Regions from separate parts of the Homo sapiens genome. Here region 2 is linked to region 1. The links come from fine-mapping of genetic effects on gene expression. Tissue or cell type: gastroesophageal junction. Region 1 holds a variant in brackets; the other region holds the start of a gene. All regions are shown on one strand. Distances are from middle to middle.

What was found. PIP is the estimated chance that this variant, and not a neighbour inherited with it, causes the effect.
Region 2: it holds the start of NTNG1, and the variant in region 1 is fine-mapped to the expression of NTNG1 in gastroesophageal junction (GTEx, PIP 0.99).

Annotation. Positions count from the first base shown.
Region 1 is chr1:106,562,077-106,570,201 of GRCh38, forward strand. No RefSeq gene overlaps it. Among named protein-coding and RNA genes, the nearest start is that of LINC01661, 250 kb to the right of the region's middle. The variant C/A (reference allele first, on the strand shown) is at 4,837.
Region 2 is chr1:107,137,206-107,145,330 of GRCh38, forward strand. NTNG1 (netrin G1) reads left to right here and starts at 3,834. Exons shown (of 8, transcript NM_001113226.3): 1 at 3,834-3,935. RefSeq lists an enhancer at 3,474-4,005 and silencers at 3,939-4,228, 4,249-4,528.

The sequences.
Region 1 (8,125 bases):
TGGTACTGGGAAAACTGGATATTCATATTCAGAAGAAAGAAACTAAATGTCTGTCTCTTGCCATGTACAAAAATCAAATCGAAATGGTTGAAGACTCAAATATAAGACCTCAAACTATGAAACTATGACAAAAAAACTTTGGGGAACTCTCCAGGACATTGGACTGGAGTAAGATCACTTGAGCTAAACCCAACAACCACAGGCAACCAAAGCAAAAATGGACAAATGGGATTACATCAAGTTAAAAAACTTCCACACAGCAAAAGAAACAATCAAAAAAGTGAAGAGACAACCCACAGAATGAAAGAAAATATTTGCAAGCTACCCACCTGAAAAGGGATTAATAACCAGAATATATAAGAACATCAAACAACTAAATAGAAAAAATCTAATAATTGGATTATTTAAAAAATGGGAAAAAGATTCATTAGGCATTTCTCAAAAGAAGAGATACAAATGGCAAACAGGTATATGAAAAGGTGCTCAATATTATTGATCATCAGAGAAATACAGATTAAAACTACAATGAGTTATCATTTTACCCCAGTCAAAATGGCTTTTATCCAAAAGTAAGGCAATAACAAATGCTGGTGAGGATGTGGATAAAAGAGAACCCTTGTACACTGTTGATAGGAATGTAAATTACTACAACCACTATAGAGAACAATTTGGAGGTTCCTCAAAGAACTAAAAATAGAGTTACCATGTGATCCAGCAATCTCACTCCTAGGTATATACCTAAAAGAAAGGAAATCAGTATATTGAAGAGATACATGCACTCCCCTGTTTATTGCAGGAGTATTCACAACAGGCAAGGTTTGGATGCAACCTAAGTGTTCATTAACAGACAAATTGCAATGAAAATATGGTACATATACACGGTGGAATACTATTCAGCCACACACAAGAAAGAATGAGAACCTGTCAATTGCAACAACATGAGTCATTTTGTTGAGTGAAATAAGCTATGCACAGAAAGACAAACTTCACATGTTCTCACTTATTTGTGGGAGCTAAACATTGAAATAATTGAACTCATAGAGAGAGTGAGTAGATGGATGCTTATGAGAGTCTGGGAAGGGTAGTGGGAGGGGGTGGAGGAGAAGTGGGGATTGTTAATTGGTACAAAAATTGTTAGAAAGAATGAATAAGACCTAGTATTTGCTAGCACAACAGGGCAACTATAGTAAAAAATAATTTAATTGTACATTTTTTTCAAATCACGAAATGTGTAAAACTGGATTGTTTGTAACATAAAAAATAAATGTCTGAGCTGATGGATACCCCAAATGTTTGATGTGATTATTATAGATTGCAAGCCTGAATAAAAATATCTCATGTAACCAAGAAATACATACACCTATTATGTACTCACAAAAATTAAAATAAAGAATTTTTATAAAAGAGTGATATGAACTAAGTTTTAATTTTGAAAGCTCACTCTGGCTACAAGATGAAAGATGGATAGGCTGATAAAGTGGGGAAGAAGGGACACACTGAAGGTAAAAGGTTGTTAGTTTGGTATTTCACTATTTCATGCTAATTAAAACAAAAGCCTGCTTGAACTCAATATTAGTTGGTGTCATGCAAAATAGGAAATAGATTTCAGAACAATTCAGGAGGAAAGATCAAATGGATTTGGCAATTAATTGTATGTGATGGTTGAGGGATAGGATTCAATGGGAAATGAAAAACTGGAAGGCTAGGTGTACAGTGATGCTTTTTACAAAGCTATGAGATGAGAAATAAGAAAATATGGAAGAAAAAATTTTGAGTTTTCTCAAAAAGAGCCCGTTAAATAGTAATATTTCTGGAATATATGACTGGAAATATGTGGCAAGAAGTTAGATTGCCCCTACGGAAATCAAGGCTATAGATGTCCTATCTGATATCTACCTACAGTATCTCTCTTAGTATCTACATGTGTGTCTCACATGCATATCGGAAATGGGTTCCGTAAAAGAGAAGAGGGTGATATATAAGGAGGCTGAGATTTAAAGTAAGAAGAGGGGTAGGCTGTGAGAATAGAATACGAGAGATCACCAGTTTAAATGGTATGCAGAAGAGATGTTCATGAGAGAAACTTAGAAGTAGAGGTCAGGTCGTAAGAAGACAACTGGTCTCATAGAAGGCAACTAGGAATTATGAAAGTCAAAGAGCTTATGTATCCACCCTGTGAAATGTATTACTATAGGTCTTTATTCCAGATATATAAACATTTAAATAAGTCTTTTGGTGGTTTACCCTTGCCAGGGTAATTTCAGTCTGTTTGGCACAAAAGCCAAACAGCTGTGAGTTGCATGGTAAATGGAAAATGAGGAAGTGGGGACAAGGAGTGCAGACTATCTTTTCATGAAAAAGAGGGCAAAAAGGTTGTAACCACAAAGAGGCACAAAGTCAACGTAGCCAAATTCAGGTTAGGCGAGAAATGAGGATGCTTAGGAGAAAAAAAAAAACTACAATAGAATGAGGAAGTTTACAATGTTGACATGATAGTAGTAAAAGATAGAGCAAGATTAGAGGGGACAAGATAAATGGAGTTTCAGAGACAGCAGGACAGGTGGAATGAGGAGGAGAGATACCTCACCTCTAAGAATAAAATACAGCTACATAGCCTGTAGCTCCAGCTACTCGGGAGGCTAAGTTGAGAGTATCATTTAATCCCAGGAAATCAAGGCCAGCCTGAATAACATAGCAAGACTTCCATCTCTCTCTTTACAAGAAAAGACATATAAACACAATTTTCAATTCCACTCCTGCCACTTAGAATTGTGACATTAGACAATTTAACAAAACAAATTCCTAACATTATCTCAGCATATAGGGCAAGTAGTTTACATAAAGCAAGTAAAGCGTGGGATTTAAAATTAATATTAATATTAATATTGGATTATAAATGAACATGAAGAAGGTAGAAGGGTGTGTGTGTGTGTGTGTGTGTGTGTGTTTGTGTGTGCGTATGAGATGACGGAGGAGGGAAGCTAAGGAAAACCATACCTATTTCCACACGTCTTGATGCTGTCCTTGAGAACTTCTTTCCTTTTGTTGTTTCTCCTGTCCACATTCCATGGCATAGAATGGGGGTGTGAGGCAGACAAGATATGTGATTCTAGAAAATTCAAAGTTCGATTCAAAATTTGCTGATAATCTAGTTTGTTCAAGGCATTTCACCAAAGGAGAGTGTTAAAAAAACAAACAAACAAAAAAGATAATTAAGCAGAGAGACCCAGCCCAAAGAAGCTCATGGTCTACAGGGGTAGAGAGGTAAACACATAAATACCTGAAGGGTAAATACATAGTCACTTGAAGTTGCATCTTTTTTCTCTTTTACAGTAAAATAGAACTCAGCCATTTTAAAACACCACTCTAATGAGATCTTTCAAGCTCTTGAAATGTCATTTGATGTATAGATACATTTGACATACATTAAAGAAGTAACCTAAAAGGTTTATCAGACCAAAGGAAGTGTGACTTTCCAGCCTGAGATGGAGTGACGGAAGTCATTGAAATGATTTATTGATAAGTGATAATATGCAGTTGTGGTTCAAAGAAGGGCAGAGTCAGCTCCTAATAAGAAAAAATTTCATTCCAAGGGTATCCTGCATTTTTTTATTTATTTCAGAGATAAAAATAGGGTGTAGGCAGGGAGAATTGGTTTCCTTGAAACAAGAACTTTTGCAAAGTGAAAAACTTGAAATTAGATTATACATCAGCATGAATAAGATAGCCTAGCATGATCTCCACTTTCAACTTTGGTGTGTTGGTAATATGCCTGGCCTTGGCAGAGTTATTTTTGCAGAAATAAAGATTGCCTTTCTTACATAGTATTCTCTCCTTCTTGGACCTGTGGAAAAAGCAGGTTCTTCATTTGCAACTCTTAAGATTTTCAGATCAGTAAACAGTATGACTATACACTTAGCTCTGAAGCTCAGTTGTGAGATAGATAGAAAAAATATTTATGTTTATAAGGTGAATCTCTGATTTAATATGTTGTTAGAGTTGATATGATTTATTTCCAAATACAGCAATTTTTAAATGTCTAATATTTTATTTAAATGCTTATGTTCACCAAATTTATCCCTGTAAAATGCCCAAATGTGCTAGCTGAACAGTTTGAATTTTAAAACTTTTCGTTAAAAATAAAATGTTACTAAAAGTAGAATCTATGATTTTCAGTGAATTATTCAATAAAATACTCAAAAGAATAGAAGGCACAGAGTACCAAAGTAAAAAGATTAAAATATATAATAAAAGTGATAGAAATGTAAAATATTTACTGAAAATCACATATATATTATTTATATTTTATTTCTAAGGATTTTGAACTCAGCATTGCTGTTAACCCATGACAATTATATTTTCTGGATAGAAAGGTGTTCAATGGGAAGCACTCCTCACCTCCAAACAAACCTCTCTGGTGTCTACTGAATGTTGTCCGACTACAAATCAGAGAAAGGTTGAGAGTAATAGCAATTTCTCTGTCCTCTACAGGACAAGCCAGTTGGACTTGACTTATTCAAGAAATACCTCACCACTCACTTTGTACGGGTAACCAAAGTACCAAGCATGATGTCTTGTCACAAGTAGAAGAGATTTTGACATAATATAGCTGGGAAAGAAAAGAGTGGCAACCCAGAGTTATGTAGTGTGTTGGGTCAGGTATATATCTAGAGATATTTGGAGACTCAGGGAAAATTTAATTCAACTTTATAATCTTTTTCACATTTTCTCTCCTCTAGTTTTGTTCATTTGTAATTATTCTTACATTATTCAAGCTTTTTTTTTTGGCTGATTTTACAGATACATATATATGTCAAACTCCAGATCCTCCTGCAA[C/A]AAAATCATTGCTTTTCTTTCTTTCTAGAACAAATTGAAATTAACTCAACTGGCCTAAATCAGTTTGGATTGTACTTAAGACCTGTGGATTAAGTGAATCTTTTTCTGAAATAATCCCAAGTAATAATCCCATTACAAGTAATGGACAAAAAAAAATCATTCTATGTCTTAATCTCATTACTCTGTACCTCAATATGTTCTAATTCAGATAGGATCTATAAATAAATATCATGAATAAATACGTATAGGGAGACTGGCTGGTGTGCTGAGCACAGTTTATAATGTTAAAGCTAAAGGGGGCCTTTCCAACAAATTCAAGTATAAGTTCAAACGAGAAAAATCACACATTATTTCCTATTTACTATTGGCATTTCTTATCCCTAAGGAAGTAGTAGTAATAAGTGGCTTTAGAAATATGTGTGAGTGTGTGTGTTTATGCATGCGTGTACATATGTGTTGAAAAGCAGCATGGATTTTGTTGAGCCAGCATGAAGTCTTACAAGAGAGGAGACTATGCATGCTTTTTCAATTAACTCTGTCCGTAGATACTTTTCATACAAGTAGTGAAATAAATCATAATAACTACTTATCACCGATTATTACTTAAAGCATTTTTTTTTGTTTCTGTGTACTACTTCTTGTTCATTTCCTAGATAAATTTCAATGGCTAAGACTTTTATGTCAGGGTCACTTTCTATTAGATAATGCTGACACAAAAATGTTTCTGCCTCTTGTGATAGAAAATTACAAACAGGATCACATGCTAAAGGAAAACAATCCTTCTTCACAATTAAAATTTAAATCACTCTACAAACCAAGTAAATGCTGGTGTGTTTTTCTAACCTTCTCTACGGTAGTCGATACATGGGTCAGAAAAGTAGAGTGACTTTTAGATTAACAAATGTATTAAAATAGCAAATTCTAAGACGCAATCAGTAATACATTCAGGAATTTTTGTACCAGAGCCAGTTTCTAAAGATAGGGAAAAATCAGACCAAAAGAAAATGGCAAATAACAACAAACTAGAAAGGGTTGGTTTACACACACACACGCGTGCACACACACACACACACACACTTGATTCTCAACCACGGACCCGAGAACAGCAAACTCTTTCAAGTTGTATATGTATATTCTCACTTCTCACTCCATCCTTTACAACGTCCTTTCATATCTGGATCTCAGCTTCTTCCTTGCCTCATTTTTCTTTAGATTATAATATATTTATATTTCTACAACTGGTACAGATTATGTTAGCATATTCACCTGGAGTTCTATGAGTGTAGCTGCATGACCACAGATGCTTGATAATAAAAAAGGGGGGGTGGGGCTGCATTAAAGTAGCAGATATGACTCAATGAGAAGACCAAGGAGAGCTGTGATGGTAGAAGCTAGAAGGCTCGGTTAGGATTGCCATGGCTGTCACATGGCACCTTAGCTATGCTTGCTTCAGAGTCCACTTTTCTTCCCATTTCAACATCAAGTAGCTGAAACAGGCTTAAACCAGTTTTTCTGTTGGCTGCTGAGCCAAAGAGACAGGAAATCATTAAAGGGAAAACATTTCTAGCAAAGGTCACTTTAATAGAAAATTACGTCAATCACTTTGAAGAAAAAAAGTACATTTCAATTGATGTCATTTGTCCATAGGATAACATCCGTTTTCGTTTCTGACTTGAGTTTTTAAAAGTTCGTCTAACTTTTGAAACAAGTACATTAAAAATTAACCATCCCTTCAACAGCGATTTCAATCATTTGAAAGGGAAGAGATGGTTATCAGCTATTTCATGTCAGAAGCTAAATGGTTACCTACTTGGAAGGGAAGAGAATTTTTTTAAATGTACTCCCAGTGGAATGCTAAAAGGAGCAAACCTTTCTGAGCAAGAAGATCAAGTGTTTACTTCTTAAGCATACTTTCTTCCACAATTGAAATTTGGTAATACACATCTTAAGGATATTGAAAATTTTTTTTCTCACTATGAGTCTTAAGCATATGCCATTTGCTGCCTAAAAATATCTTATTACTTTGGTTGTTTGTGTGTGTTTTAGAAAGAGAGAGAGGGAGGGAGGGAGAGAGTGGGAGGGGAAGAGGAAGAGAAAAAAGAAAAGAGGAAGAGGGAAAGAAAATTTACAAAATGTCTAGTAAATGACAAGTACAAATGCTGCAATTGTTTCTGGTTTTCCCTCAACCCTATGAGAAGGGTTTCTTGAGTCTGCTGGCCTGAAATGCCCATGCTTCAAGCCAGACCCTTTTTCCCGTTTATTTCCACTAATCTTTCTGATCTATACAATGGCTGAAATGGTTTCTCAATCATCTCTCATTTTAAATGTACAAGATATAAGACTCATATTAAACTATAGGTTCATTATGTAGGCAAAACTCTAGACATGATTCTACCCGAATGATCAGCCTTAAGAGGCCTGCGTGTCCCTGGCTCCCAGGCTACACACATATTCCTGGTCTCTGATCCTTTCTTTCCCTTACATGCAACTGTAGCACAGTCTATGCACCAAAATGGGAAAGCATTTGTTTAAGAACAACATCTATATGCTCCATTGCAGTGCTTCTTATAAAGTGTGGTCCTCAGACTAGCAGCCCCAGCCTCGGAAGACTCAGGCTTCATCTCAGACCTACCAAGTTAGCAACTCTAGAATTGGAGACCAGCAACCTGTGCATGATCAAGTTCATCGCGTGATTTGGATGCACACTAAAGTCTGAGAATCACTGCCCTATTGGAATCAAATACAGAATGGTTGCCACCTTTCTCTTCTCTACCCAATAGCCCTGAGCCCCTGGACCTGATAAAAATGAAACGAGTTATTTGACAAAATGTGCTGGAAGAAATGAACAGAAGTTCTAGGGCTCAATTAAAAGTTGTCTTCCATTGGCATAGGCTGCTTCTTTCCCAAGGCCAGGTTCAGGGAAGTCACCAGGCCAGTGGCCATCAGAGGCATACCCCTATCAGATATGAATGGATTTAATCCATGGAGTAAGTCTATCTTTTACAGTGATATGGAAGCATATTAATTATCATCTGGCCGGATATAAATTTCCCCAAGGATGGCCTGACTCTTCATATTCTCACCACAATGCTTTTGTCTGAAAACCATTGACACAGACAGATTAAGCCAGAAAAGATGAGTTCATATTTCTATTATCATAGGGAGATGAAGGCAATTGGTACTAACAATGACCTCTTATAATTTGGTAGTTACTAATCTTCTCAATTGGAGCAGATTTCTGATAATTCCTACTTTCTCTGTAAACTAATATATTTTTCATTCTAAGTCC
Region 2 (8,125 bases), 580 kb after region 1:
CTTAGCTCTCCTTCCACCATGTGAGAATACAAGGAGTCAGTCTATTGCCTGCAACCCAGTAGGGGGTTCTCACCAGAACCTGACCATGTTGGCCCTCTGATCTCAGATTTCCAGTCTCTAGAGCTGTGAGAAATAAATTTCTATTGTTTTAAAGCCACTCAATCTATGGTCTTTGTTACAGCACCCCAGAATGTCTAATGCACCCATGATTTGGATATTTTAGACATCTACATATTAATTTAATATGGTGAGAGTTAGCTCCTGTTACCAAAGAGGCCATGAATCTTGAGAATAAGCTAAAGCTATTCACACCTGCACTGAACATTTATCTTACACCTACTTTATGTCAAGTATTTTACAGTATTTATAAAAAAGACACATTTCTTTTTGGACCAGATATATTGCAAATATGCCATCACTACCACTTCGGCATATTGAAGTTACAAATATTGAAACAACCCTGCCAAATCTCTAAAGAGAAGATTTTTAGGCAGCTAAGAACCTAGAAAAATGAACAACAGTTAGAGACCTAACAAGATTACAAATAAATGGATATCTAAGTTGAAGAAGAATGAGGAATGTGTAGAAACCAGCCAAAGATCTAAAGCCAGAGAACTGAAAGATCAAACCATTCTTCTCCAAAAGGAAAAAGAAAAAAAAAAAAAGTAGAGTTGAAAGGTTAAATAAAAACGGAAAAATAGTTTTTTCCAAAGAAAGTTAAATATATATATGGCTAGAAAAAGCAAAGAATGATAAGAAAAGGTAGGTATCCCCTAAATGATTTATCTTGGAGGCAATGAAAACTCTAAAGTCAATTTCTGATCAGTGTATATCATATAAACAAATATGCAAAGGTATATTGAGGAAAGCTGGTTTAATATATGCACGTTAGTTTGGGGAAGTATATCAAATCCACTTAAACTGCTTTTTTGGAGAAAAAGTCCTTACCACCTGATTGCTGCTGGAGGAGAGAACAAGATCTGGAAGGGAAGGGGTTTTAATGTTGAAAAGTCTCTGATGATTCTGATTTACTTCCTTGAGTTTAGATCCACATGTTTAGTTGGTGATTCACTGAGCTTCTGCAAAGGTCAGAGCACATGTTCCACAGAAAAACTCACCTCTGAAAGACTCTCCCACTCCTGTAGTGGGAGGTGTTACCTAACTGGAGAGGTTCCCATTTACATATCACACTTACTTGGGATTGCCTCATAGTCAAAGGAATCCTGGGAATGAGGGATGATACAGGAAGAGAGGAAGGGAGGTCAGTTCCAAGATTTTGACAGATGAAAACAAGTATTTTTCCAGGTTGGGAGCCAAAATCACAAAGATCTTGGTATATTCCAGAAGAGAGTTCTCTAATCTCTGCATAGATTTATTTTATTTTTACTACAGAAGGGCCTTAAATGACCAGATAAAGCAGAGGATGAGAGTTCAGAAAGGCTTTCTTGGCTTGAGAGAGAAGGGCAAGAGAGAGGAAAGGCTGAGAACTGTCTGTATTTCAGGATCTAGGCCAAGGGGCCAACGAGAAATAAGAAGGCCACTCTTGGTATTGTTTATTATATCCTATTGCAAAGGGCTCCCATAGAAAGAACTGGGATCTAAGGGCCTGTGAAGGAGGATTAGGTGGTGAGTAACATCTCCATATAGTCAGTATGTTTTAAACCTGGAGGAGCATGGCTAGAGACAGGGGGAAGAGCCAGACTTGGCCACTGTCTAAGAACCCTTGGTAGGAGTTTCAGCCCTGCAGGTAACTCTTTTTTGCAATGTCAGCACTACAGGACAAAGGTGGGAAAGAGGAAAGCACATGAATCCCAGATTCCTGCACTCAGAGATTCCGAAGGCGACTTATTGTGGCCTCTTAGGTGTTAGAGGGAAGGCTGGGGGTGCCTGAAATCCCTGCCCACTTCCTGGCTGCCCAGGGCCAAGGAGGGCCTGGTTATAGGCCCAACTCAACAAACTTCTCCCCCATCCATCCTTTTACCACACCACCCCCAGTCATCACAGAAAAATGACCCAATTACTCAGCCTCCTGCCTTAATTGTGGGACACATAGTGACTAAGTGTTCACAATTGCCCATTTCTTCCACCCCCCCCCCACCCGCCACTTTGCCTTGACCAAACATGAGTCAGGCTTCTCTCCAGCAGGTCCCTGGAATTTAGCTTGCCCCCCAAATCTGAGCAAGAACTAAAATGTGAAACATTCACCATTGTTAGCTTATCTTCCAAATTCTTGGACCACAGAGACACATTTCTTGTTCAACCAAGAGGGTCTTGAAGTGAGTTGTTTCCCCCATCCACTTGGCTTTGCCTATTGCTTGCTCCCCCTTATATATATAGAAAAAAAAGGCCGATTTCTGTTTGGTTTTGAGAGGTTTGCAGATTTCTGAGATCAGAGCGTTTTCCCTGTTGCAATAGTCTTTCTTTCTAATGGAAGTCTCCCTATCTTATCTAAATTCGGATTTGTTTCTGTTTGACGTTAATGTGTAGCTAAGAGTGATCCCAGGTGAGTCTGAGCCCGCCTTGGTGGGGAATGAAGCCTGGAGCATCGGAGCATTTGTCTTTCTCTTAGAAAAGGCAAGGAAGCCTGAAATGCGCAGCTCTCCCTTGAACTTCAACTTTTTAAAGGGGAATGAATTTCTAAAGGAGGAGTTTCCAGTCTAGGGCTGTAGGGGCCTCCGGGCAAAGGAAGTGCTTGTTGAAAAACAACATTGTGATCACTTCCAGCGGCGAAGGGTGTGCTTGGGAACGGTTTGGGGAGGGGACAGAAGAGAGAGGGGTGGGATGGACGGCGGCAGAAGTGGGAGGTACACGAGGAGTTACTGGAAACGGCGCTTCTGTGGAGGAGCCGGGGGGGATGGGGAGTAGAGGGAGGGGGCCCTGTTGCCTCAGCGCCCCGAGGTCGTGGAGCGGCAGCAGCTGCAGCCGGAGCAGCACCAGCAACAGCAACAGCGAGCGGGACGGAGTTAGGACCGCTCGGAGCGCACAGGTCTCGAGGTAGTATAAGGTTTGCTATCCTTCCACTTGCTGGCAGTTGCAGAAGAAGATCTGCTTTTTAAGTGAAACGTACATGCCACCCCTCCGAGGGCTGCGGCTTCCCCGGGCTTGCTTCTTTGCCGCTCCTCTTTCCGGCTCTCGCGCTCACTCTTTAATTGGCACTGGCCCCTAAGTTTGCCAGGAGCTCGCTGCCCGCTCGGAGCAGGGTCCCGGCCGGGAGCCGCTGGTGGGGGCGGGGAGTCCGGGAGCCGCAATCCAGAAGCGTCGTGGGCCATGTATATTTCATCAAACGGACTTTGGGTGCGTCGCGTCTCACTGCCATCAGTGCTATGTGCAGTGACATTTCTGACTTGAGTGGAGGAATGCGCGAAGGAAACCCGGGCGAAATTGGTATTAGAGGATCTTCTTGGCGCCAATGCTAATTGTCCTGATTTATGCCCCTTCTGACTAAGCTCAACGTCTTCATCTGAAATAAAATGAAAGCGGTGCCAAGCGGCATAGAACCGCCTGGCCGCTGGTTCTGATCCCCGGGAACCAGAAAATCGTCCTGCGGCTTGAAAAAAAAAAAAAGAGGAAAAAAAAAAGAAATAGAAATAGAAAAAAGAAAAAATATCCCTCAGTAAAAGTTTAAGGCGAGAAGTGTCAGAGGCAGCGGAGCGAGGAGGCGCGGAGGAGAGCCGGCGAGCAGGGGACTGGGCTGGCACGACCTCCGAAGGCTGAGATCTCATTATTAATATCACTATATTTTTGGAGGGAGAGGCACCTTTCTCATCCTCTCTTCCTCTCCGCCCACCCTTACTCCCTCCCCCTCATCTACCTGTCAAAGTCACTGATCTTTTGCATTTCGGAAGAGGACGTCAACGGGAAGGAATTCCCCCTCTGGGTGCGGGCTCCGAGAGGGGGCGACTTGCAGGAGGCTCCCCCCGGGGGCGGAGGCGAAGGTAATTAAGCGGCGGGGAGTGGCGGGCCGGCGCTGGGTTCTCGGTCCTCGGGGTCCTCTCCCGCCGGCGGCCGGGCGCGATCGGAATCCCCGGGCTGCGGCGGTGGCGGCGGCTCGGGTCCTCACGCCCACCCCTCCCGCTCCGCCCGCTCCCGCCTGGGGAGGAGGCTCCGCGGGAGCTGCCGCCCTCCGCCCGTACGCCGCCCGCGGGCTCCGCTGCTGCGGCCGCCGCCCGAGGCGGACCAGGCTGGCTGCGCAGGGCCGCCGCCCCGCGCCGTCGGCTCGGCTCCCGCCCGGCGCAAGGGCAAACGAGCCACACGGTAAGTGCCTGCGGCTCGCCTCTCCTACTGCGACCCGAGCCTCTCGCCCGTGCCCCTCTCCCCCGGGTTTCCCCACCCCCCGCCGCCCCCCGCCCCACCCGCTGCGATGCACAGGCGGGAGGGAAGGCTCCGGGTGGGCGAGGAACTTTGTAAAGCGCCCCGAGGAGGCAGCGCGCGGAGCCCTACGCGCACACACAGCGGCACACGCTCACACCCACACACAAGTCTTCCCGGGGGTGCGCCCCGGGCCGGTGATGCGTCCTCTTGTTGTGTCCGGAGCCCAGGCGTGGGGTCTGAGCCTCCATCCGCCGACTGACAGGGGCCCCGCGCTCTCCCTCTCTCACGCACACCTGGCCACACACATCGCTCAGGCGGCTTGTCGTTATTTTTTCTTTCTTTCGCCAATTATATTTGTTTGGGGAAAAGCAAACAAAAAAAACAAAAAAACACTTGCCCTATTGCCGGCCTTGGGGATCTGGTGGCCACATCGAGAGCTTTTGAAGTCCCTTCTTTTAATCGCCTTTATTGGTGCTAGATTAAAACATTACTATCCCATGTTGTGCAGCTGGGGAGAAAGGGAAATTGAAAGAGGAAGACTTGGTGTAGGGATGCTGTTTGGAATATTCTCTCATATTCTTTACTGGCATCATATTAATCGGTTGATGGATTCGGCTAGGGACACTGAATTGCACTCCTGTATGGATCTGTGGATATCTATATATAATACAAATAATACTGAATATTATTGGGCCTAAAATAACCAATTAAGTGATTCATACAAGGAAAAACTTAGATATAAAAAGAAACTGCGCCCTCTGCTGTTAATTTTAGTACCCTCACCCGGGGACTTTTTTTTTTTTTCCTTCAGAAATCCACTTAAGAGTAGGCTGTCATCTTACAGGGCAAGGGAAGAAAATTCCTAGCGGGGATTTTAAAGCAACTTTACTTGGAAAAGTCGCAGGTTGAGCTCCTATAGTTGCATCAGGTACAGATTTCCAGTGAGTAGACGGTCCTCCTCTCTCACCCATTCTTCTCTTTATACAGGGAATAATGGAGCCACTCCTCATAACAAATTGTCAATCTTTGGAATGGAAAATTCTGAGTAAGATTCAGAACTCCACTAAACATATGGTGAATCTGGCAGTAGAATTGCTCTAGAAATAAGGCCCTGTTTTATGACTGAAAATACTAAAAGTTGTTTTATCTTACAGAAATGAAAAAAAAAAAAACCCAGGAAGATCTTCCATTAAAATCACTTATTCAGATATGCTTAGTAGTTAAGCTTGTTGGAAAGTTTTCCAAAAAATAATTTTTTTTTTTTTCAGGGGAGGCTTTTCTGTTTTGTTTGTCCCTTGAGGAGGATCTCTAGTGAGGGAATTAGCAATTCCACATTTCATTAAGTATTTTGAACTGTGTCACTTTGAATGCCTTACCCGCCTCCCTTTCTCTTTGGCAAAGGAAAAGCAGCTCAGTAACTGTCCAAGATTCTTTTTGAAGATAAGCAACTTTCGATTTTTCATTAAGATAAAATTTGGATCTCTGCATGTGGATCAACATGCAAGGAAAAATGTGCATCAAGTATTTCACATGTAATGTTGTTCCAGGGATATATTTTCTTTTCTGGATGCCGTGAAATGAGATATATTTCACCCACTGAAGACCACCATGAAGGCATTCAGGATTCTATATACTGCACTACTAATTTGGTGGTATTTCCTTACTGTGGAATTTAAGACGGATAATCTTAAAACTTTTGCATGGAAACAGTTTATTTGAACATAAAGCTGGTTTCCTGTTAATATTTTTGTTTTGTCAGTTTTCAATGGGTATATGTGTTAAAATGATTCAGGTTAGCCTTTTTAGGAGGAGGCAAATGTATTTTGCAGTTTCCTTTTGTATATTTGCAAGTGGTGCAAATACCTATTTTTGCTTCCATTATTATTCTGAAAAATATTCAGGTAATTTGTTTAAAAAGTTAAACCATTACACATTTATTTGATAGGATTTCTAAGTGTCATAAAAATTTGGAGAGTTTTAGTTACAAAGGCATCAAGTCACTTGGAAAAAAGAAAATTGGATTCAACTTTGAAAACCAATTATATGTTAACATTGAAATATATGTGTGTGAATTATATTGTATAGGAGATTATATTAGTAAAGTCTTAGGTTAGTATGAGATTTAGCATACTTTAAAAAATAATTTTATTTGCAGAATCCAAAGTTCTGTTTCAAAACTTCAGGTAGGTGTAGATTTTCTCATATATGCGTTTGAGACCTTAGATCTCTGAACTTCCCTGCATGAGAATTAAATATTTGTTTTTCATGTGGTAATTAAATTCCAGATTTCTTCTAGGCTTAACTGATTCTGAAATAGTTTTGGGTATTATCCCATCCTCAATCATCCTGCAAAACATGTGCTATCTAATTTCTTGAATCAGTCTTCTCTCAATGAAAATAGAGATCTTTCAATTACCACGGTGTGTTATTTGGGTTTATTAAGAATCTCATGATAGACAGTTGCTCATAATACCCAATCAAGTGTGAGTAAGCTATGCCAATGATGTTGCAGTACATATTAAATTCCTTATATTTTGAGAGACAGTTAACAAAAGGATAGAAGCATATGTTTTCCATTAAGTTGACTAGAAAATGCTTTCTTCAGAACAAATAGCTGCAAAGAGCATTGAATACATGTTAAAATATCTTATGTAATAAATTTCATTATGACTGTTGGAAGCTGCTAATTTTGATAGGTTATAATTTTGTATATCTTTATCTTTTTATATTTTCACTCAATGATCTATATAGTCAATTTTCCTTTTGTTCCTTCCCATTCAGAAACATGCATATTTATAAAATTCTTAATGTGAATGAGGAATGAGTCAATAGTTGTGTATTTCAGGTACCCCTGAAAAGCTGAATATTTATGAAAAAAATAGCTTACTACCACCATTCCCACCTGCTAGTGAGATTATATAATAAAATGAATGCTGAAAACCAGCTAGATTAGGAGATTTACTGATAATGTCTTCCTCTCAGTTGATGAAACTGGCAATTGCTTTTGGAATATAATTGCCTGTAATATTAACCATTATTACTTCCATGTAATATTTTGGGAGGCTTTTTTTTTCTGGTGAAAGAAAGGGCCTGTGAAAATGGCTTCTGCAAAATTAATCCAAGGTGGAAGGGAATTAGCTGCAGAATCCTGGACAAATACATGTTTTGTGTGTGCAAAGGCATTTTATAGCCCATTTTAGTCCTGATCAATAATCTCTATCAACTTGAGGGCCATGACTTAATTTTACCTTTTATTATTGGTTCTGCAAATTTATACACCGGAGGTCTATGGGGTACTCACAACCTATTAATGGGTATTTTTATCAAAGGAGACTTCTCAGTACTTTAGTTCCCAAGTAGAGGTGGTAGCATTTTTGATTACAGTGAGTTCCCAAGGTCTGCAAAGTGAAGAGGTAGAACTGGAGCTGCCCAGAGCTCTTATGAATCTGTTCTTATTTAGGTGATACGGACACCTGAGACAAATTTAAAGGCCACGTCACTTCACAATTAGTTCAGTTATGGGCCAGAAGGGATAGGTTTAGTATATTAAGTCCCCAAATATGTTATTCACTGTCCTTCTCATAATTGGTTTCCCTAGCTATTTGCTGTGATGACCTAGCTTTTAAGAAGCTATTGATAATTTTAACCTGTTTGAAAGCACAGCAGATAGACACAGTGCCATTAAATAGTGGAGGTTAAGTTGTAAATAATATTCTATTTTTACATCATTGTATTTTCTTTGAAAACTCTGTAATTATACTTTAATAACAAATTCCTGATTTTCAGAGGCTGCTTTTCCATTGTGTGTCATGGA